Linked DNA regions of Homo sapiens: region 1 is linked to region 2. The links come from fine-mapping of genetic effects on plasma protein levels. Region 2 holds a variant in brackets. A gene starts in the other region. All regions are shown on their forward strands. Region 1 holds the start of GOLM2 (golgi membrane protein 2). Region 2 overlaps LINC01221 (long intergenic non-protein coding RNA 1221).

What was found. A credible set is the group of variants that fine-mapping cannot tell apart. PIP is the chance, under the fine-mapping model, that this variant and not a neighbour inherited with it causes the effect. Protein levels are from antibody-based Olink assays in UK Biobank. Linkage for the fine-mapping came from a reference panel and not from the study's own genotypes, which makes the PIPs less certain.
Region 1: GOLM2 starts here. The variant in region 2 is the best candidate, but not a certain one, in a credible set for the plasma level of the GOLM2 protein (UK Biobank, PIP 0.52).

Annotation. Positions count from the first base shown.
Region 1 is chr15:44,287,181-44,290,092 of GRCh38, forward strand. GOLM2 (golgi membrane protein 2) reads left to right here and starts at 1,539. Exons shown (of 10, transcript NM_138423.4): 1 at 1,539-2,176. The coding sequence starts at 1,850. RefSeq lists enhancers at 598-1,504, 886-955, 1,351-1,645 and a silencer at 1,456-1,815.
Region 2 is chr1:199,024,184-199,027,095 of GRCh38, forward strand. All of the region lies in intron 1 of LINC01221 (long intergenic non-protein coding RNA 1221), which reads left to right. Among named protein-coding and RNA genes, the nearest start is that of LINC01222, 6.7 kb to the left of the region's middle. The variant TA/T (reference allele first, on the strand shown) is at 1,384.

The sequences.
Region 1 (2,912 bases), not on the chromosome of region 2:
AGAGGATTTGTTAGATCTTATGAAGCCAGAGCTCACTTCTGATGTGAACCAAGTATTAATAATTTTGGTGGTGGTTTTCTGTACTGCATCTGAGAGAGTAATCATTGTTCTTTGAAGATGCAATAATTCTACGCTACTACGGGACTTAGGGAAATAATTTTTGAGGATAGGAAGCACAGAATAATTAAGATGACAAGTCTTCCTGCCTCAAAATCATATCACTCTGATTCGAATAAAAAATACCAAGGTTTTTCCTTCTTGAGGTTTTATACTCATGGAAGTTCTTCAACCTGAGGTCTGAAAAATAAGGCAACCCCATCCTCTCCTTAAACAGGTTAGAGCCAGTACCTTTTTATTTCTCTATGCACGGACAAAATAATTATGCAAAAAAAAAAAAGAGGCAGGTTTTGTTTTTTTTTTTGCACTACTGAAATTCACACTTAACATATAAACAATCTGCTATATGCAGACAGCACTGGTGTTTAGAGTTCAATGATCTGGATTCAAGCCTATTTAAAACCAGATAAGAGAAAGTTCCCAAACATCTATGTGTCTTGGATTCTTCATCTGTAAAATTGCGTTGTTGAGAAGATAATATGAGACTAGGCGCGCAAAACAATTTGTTAGAGCTATTATTTCTAACCCGGAATGTGTTCGCTGGCAGTAACAGTGCATTAGTTACGATTCATCGAGGGCAGCTTCTGGACTTTCTGTTTGGAAGCCCAGCTGAGGCAAAAGCAGCAGTGCGTTTAAAAATTGGAGCTCGCCACATTCTGAAATTCTTTCGGTTCGTGAAAGCAGTAACCTAGGAAACGAGACTGGCACCACCCCTTTCAGTCCTAAAGCTTGGTTTCTCCCGCTTTTCTCCATTATGTTTAGGGCATCGCTATTTTACAGTCTTTTTGTTTTTTCTTTCCACATCATTAGCACAAAAGAGAAATTCCCCTTCTACAGAAGCAAGTACAAAACCTTTCTAGTCGCTCCTTTTTGGCAGCAGCTCACCTACTATTTTTTTCTATTCCGCGGTCGCAGCCCCAGACGTCCTCAAAGACAAATATTTTCGCGAGGGCCAGTGTAGGGCAGGAACTCCCTAGGCCTTGAATCAAGGGAATCCAGTAGATAACAACAGAAAGGACTCCGACCCAGGTACCTGAGACATCTGAGACCGCCAAAATTAACACAACACCCTACGCGACAGAGAAAACTCTGGGCGGGGAGAGAGAAAGAGAGCGAGCGAGCGAGAGAGAGAGAGAGCGAGAGAGAGAGAGAGAGAGAGAGAGAGAGAGAGAGAGAGAGAGAGAAAGAGAGCGAGCGAGAGAGAGCGAGAGAGCGAGAGAGCGAGAGAGCGAGAGAGCGAGAGAGAGAGAGAGAGAGAGAGAGAGAGAGAGAGAGAGAGAGAGAGAGAGAGAGAGACGAGAGGAAGCAACGTTCTCGCGACAAGAGGGGTGTCGACGGAAACTCGGAAATGGTCCCCTAGACGACCCGGCCCCAGCTAGTGGGTGGGGCCAGGGTACATCCGCCCCTTTCCGGTTTTTTTCCCCGCCTCCCAACCGTGAGGTGTTGGGTTTGGGGGACGCTGGCAGCTGGGTTCTCCCGGTTCCCTTGGGCAGGTGCAGGGTCGGGTTCAAAGCCTCCGGAACGCGTTTTGGCCTGATTTGAGGAGGGGGGCGGGGAGGGACCTGCGGCTTGCGGCCCCGCCCCCTTCTCCGGCTCGCAGCCGACCGGTAAGCCCGCCTCCTCCCTCGGCCGGCCCTGGGGCCGTGTCCGCCGGGCAACTCCAGCCGAGGCCTGGGCTTCTGCCTGCAGGTGTCTGCGGCGAGGCCCCTAGGGTACAGCCCGATTTGGCCCCATGGTGGGTTTCGGGGCCAACCGGCGGGCTGGCCGCCTGCCCTCTCTCGTGCTGGTGGTGCTGCTGGTGGTGATCGTCGTCCTCGCCTTCAACTACTGGAGCATCTCCTCCCGCCACGTCCTGCTTCAGGAGGAGGTGGCCGAGCTGCAGGGCCAGGTCCAGCGCACCGAAGTGGCCCGCGGGCGGCTGGAAAAGCGCAATTCGGACCTCTTGCTGTTGGTGGACACGCACAAGAAACAGATCGACCAGAAGGAGGCCGACTACGGCCGCCTCAGCAGCCGGCTGCAGGCCAGAGAGGGCCTCGGGAAGAGATGCGAGGATGACAAGGTAAGGACGACCCTTTTCTCTTCAAACCCCATGGTTTCTTTTCTCCCCGGGGTCTGGGGCGGGATGTTAATCCGCTAGCTGTTGTCTTATGCCTTCCAGTATTTCAGTCCTGAAGGCTCCTTTCACCCCCAACAACCCTGTTTCTGTCAGACTTTTCCCAGTTTATCAGTGCCACGTTCTCTGGTCCCTGCCAGAAAAAAATGACTGTAAATTCTGGTTCTCAAGAGTGGACTGTGTGCAGATGCTGCCTATTCTCTAAGCTCAGCTGGTGAGTTGGCAGTAGTAATCATCTGGCCTGTGTGGCCCCCTTACCTTCAAAGACACACAAATCTGGCGACTGCCAGGTTTGGTGTGGTTATTGTCTCATTTTTATTCCGTGCACACTGATCAATATTAATTTCGTTATTTAAAGAACGAAGCCGCCTCTGACTCCTCTACTTATGGTAGTCATCATATATTTTTTAAGCTGTGTGACTTTTAAAATCTCTATAGGGTGATGTATTGAATAACTAAATAATCAGCTATGACTGCCTTTTTGTGATCAAAATGTTATGATAGATGGGCCCTCGAGCTATATGTGAGACACACTTGTGTCTTGGACATAGTTGATCCATCATTATCTACTCAATTTGAATTGTTAATGAAATCAGCCAAAAGATTAGAATCTGAAAATAAATTTTAAGCAGTGGAATGTCATGTCAGTGTCTTCATTGAAAGAAAATAGAATGAAATTTTG
Region 2 (2,912 bases):
GGGACAATTTGACTTCCTCTTTTCCTAATTGAATACCCTTTATTTCCTTCTCCTGCCTGATTGCCCTGGCCAGAACTTCCAACACTATGTTGAATAGGAGCGGTGAGAGAGGGCATCCCTGTCTTGTGCCAGTTTTCAAAGGGAATGCTTCCAGTTTTTGCCCATTCAGTATGATATTGGCTGTGGGTTTGTCATAGATAGCTCTTATTATTTTGAAATACGTCCCATCAATACCTAATTTATTGAGAGTTAAATGTTAGACCTAAAACCATAAAAACCCTAGAAGAAAACCTAGGCATTACCATTCAGGACATAGGCGTGGGCAAGGACTTCATGTCCAAAACACCAAAAGCAATGGCAACAAAAGCCAAAATTGACAAATGGGATCTAATTAAACTAAAGAGCTTCTGCACAGCAAAAGAAACTACCATCAGAGTGAACAGGCAACCTACAACATGGGAGAAAATTTTCGCAACCTACTCATCTGACAAAGGGCTAATATCCAGAATCTACAATGAACTCAAACAAATTTACAAGAAAAAAACAAACAACCCCATCAAAAAGTGGGCGAAGGACATGAACAGACACTTCTCAAAAGAAGACATTTATGCAGCCAAAAAACACATGAAGAAATGCTCATCATCACTGGCCATCAGAGAAATGCAAATCAAAACCACTATGAGATATCATCTCACACCAGTTAGAATGGCAATCATTAAAAAGTCAGGAAACAACAGGTGCTGGAGAGGATGTGGAGAAATAGGAACACTTTTACACTGTTGGTGGGACTGTAAACTAGTTCAACCATTGTGGAAGTCAGCGTGGCGATTCCTCAGGGATCTAGAACTAGAAATACCATTTGACCCAGCCATCCCATTACTGGGTATATACCCAAAGGACTATAAATCATGCTGCTATAAAGACACATGCACACGTATGTTTATTGCGGCACTATTCACAATAGCAAAGACTTGGAACCAACCCAAATGTCCAACAATGATAGACTGGATTAAGAAAATGTGGCACATATACACCATGGAATACTATGCAGCCATAAAAAATGATGAGTTCATGTCCTTTGTAGGGACATGGATGAAATTGGAAACCATCATTCTCAGTAAACTATCGCAAGAACAAAAAACCAAACACCGCATATTCTCACTCATAGGTGGGAATTGAACAATGAGATCACTTGGACACAGGAAGGGGAATATCACACTCTGGGGACTGTGGTGGGGTCGGGGGAGGGGGGAGGGATAGCATTGGGAGATATACCTAATGCTAGATGACAAGTTAGTGGGTGCAGCGCACCAGCATGGCACATGTATACATATGTAACTAACCTGCACAATGTGCACATGTACCCTAAAACTTAGAGTATAA[TA/T]AAAAAAAAAAATTAAAAAAAAAAACAAAAACATTTCATCAAGTCAGTTGGAGCTTCCACTCCATCAAGACAGGGAGTTTGCCCATGCTTGAGACCTGCTCTGTAATATTTCTTTATAATTTCAGCTATGACTTTGTTCATGCTGGTACAGAATTTAATGCTCACTATTTCATTACTGTTGAAACTTTGCAATTTATAGTAGCTTTTACCATTATATCATGGCCATTCATGTTTCTTATATTTCTTTTAGCCTTAAATGCCACCTTTTTTGGTATTAACATCGAGTCTTCTGCTTTCTTGGTTTGCATTTTTTCTTATCTTTTTGTTCACTCCTTGACTCTCTAATTCTCCTTACCAATTGTTTTAAGCATGACTGTGTAAACATTAAGTACATTGGTGTTATGTTTACTCAATGTGAGAGTCTACCTTTAATGGCAAAATTCATTCCATTCTCAGAGTAGAGATCAGTATATCTCATGTTTACTACTGGCTTAAATTTCTTATTATTTTTTTCTCTTATTGTTTTATTTGAACAAATTACTATTTATGTTATCTTTTGTTTTTGTTTCAGTTATAGTTTTCCATTCTGTTAATGCTTTCCCCTTTTCTTGCTCTTCTTATTAGATATCTATGACTCTACTATTATTTTAAGAAGATAAACTATGCTCTCAGTTGAGATAGACTGTCTTACTCAGCCAACACTCAGTTTTCTTTGATATCTTTCTCATTCCTCAAAACAATAACAAAGGAAGATGAAAACCTAGAAAAAATTACATTAGGTCTCTCCACTATTTGCAAGATGCCATTTCAATTTTAAGATTTTTTTTTTTTTTAAGACAGAGTCTTGTTCTATCACCCAGGCTGGAATGCAGTGGCACGATCACAGCTCACTGCATCCTTGAACTGCTAGGCTCAGGTAATTCTTCCACCTTGGCTTCCCACAGTGTTGGCATTACAGACATGAGTCACTACATCTGGCTGCCTCAAAATTTTTTTTGTTTTGTTTTTTGAAACAGAGTCTCACTCTGTCACCAGGCTGGAGTGTAGTGGCGGTGATCTCGGCTCACTGCAACCTCCACCTCCCAGGTTCAGGTGATTCTCCTGCCTCAGCCTCCCGAGTAGCTGGGACTATAGGCATGCACCACCACACCTGGCTAATTTTTGTATTTTTAGTAGAGACGGGGTTTCACCATGTTGGCCAAGATGGTCTCGATCTCTTGACCTCATGATCCACCTGCCTCGGCCTCCCAAAGTGTTGGGATTATAGGCGTGAGCCACTGCACCCGGCCGGCCTCAAGATTTTTAAATTTAGCATTAAATAACCTACTAGATTTTATTTATTAAGATAGAAAAAATAGATTGAAAAAAGATAATGAGTAAATTAATAGGTGAACGAATGAATGGATAGGTGGATAGGTAAATAGATCACCACCTTCCTTCCTCCTCTTATTTCTTAAATTCCCTTTTGATTGGTGTGAGTCTTTTTTCAAGTAATTTTTTCATGCAGAGTATTTGTGTGGTACATATT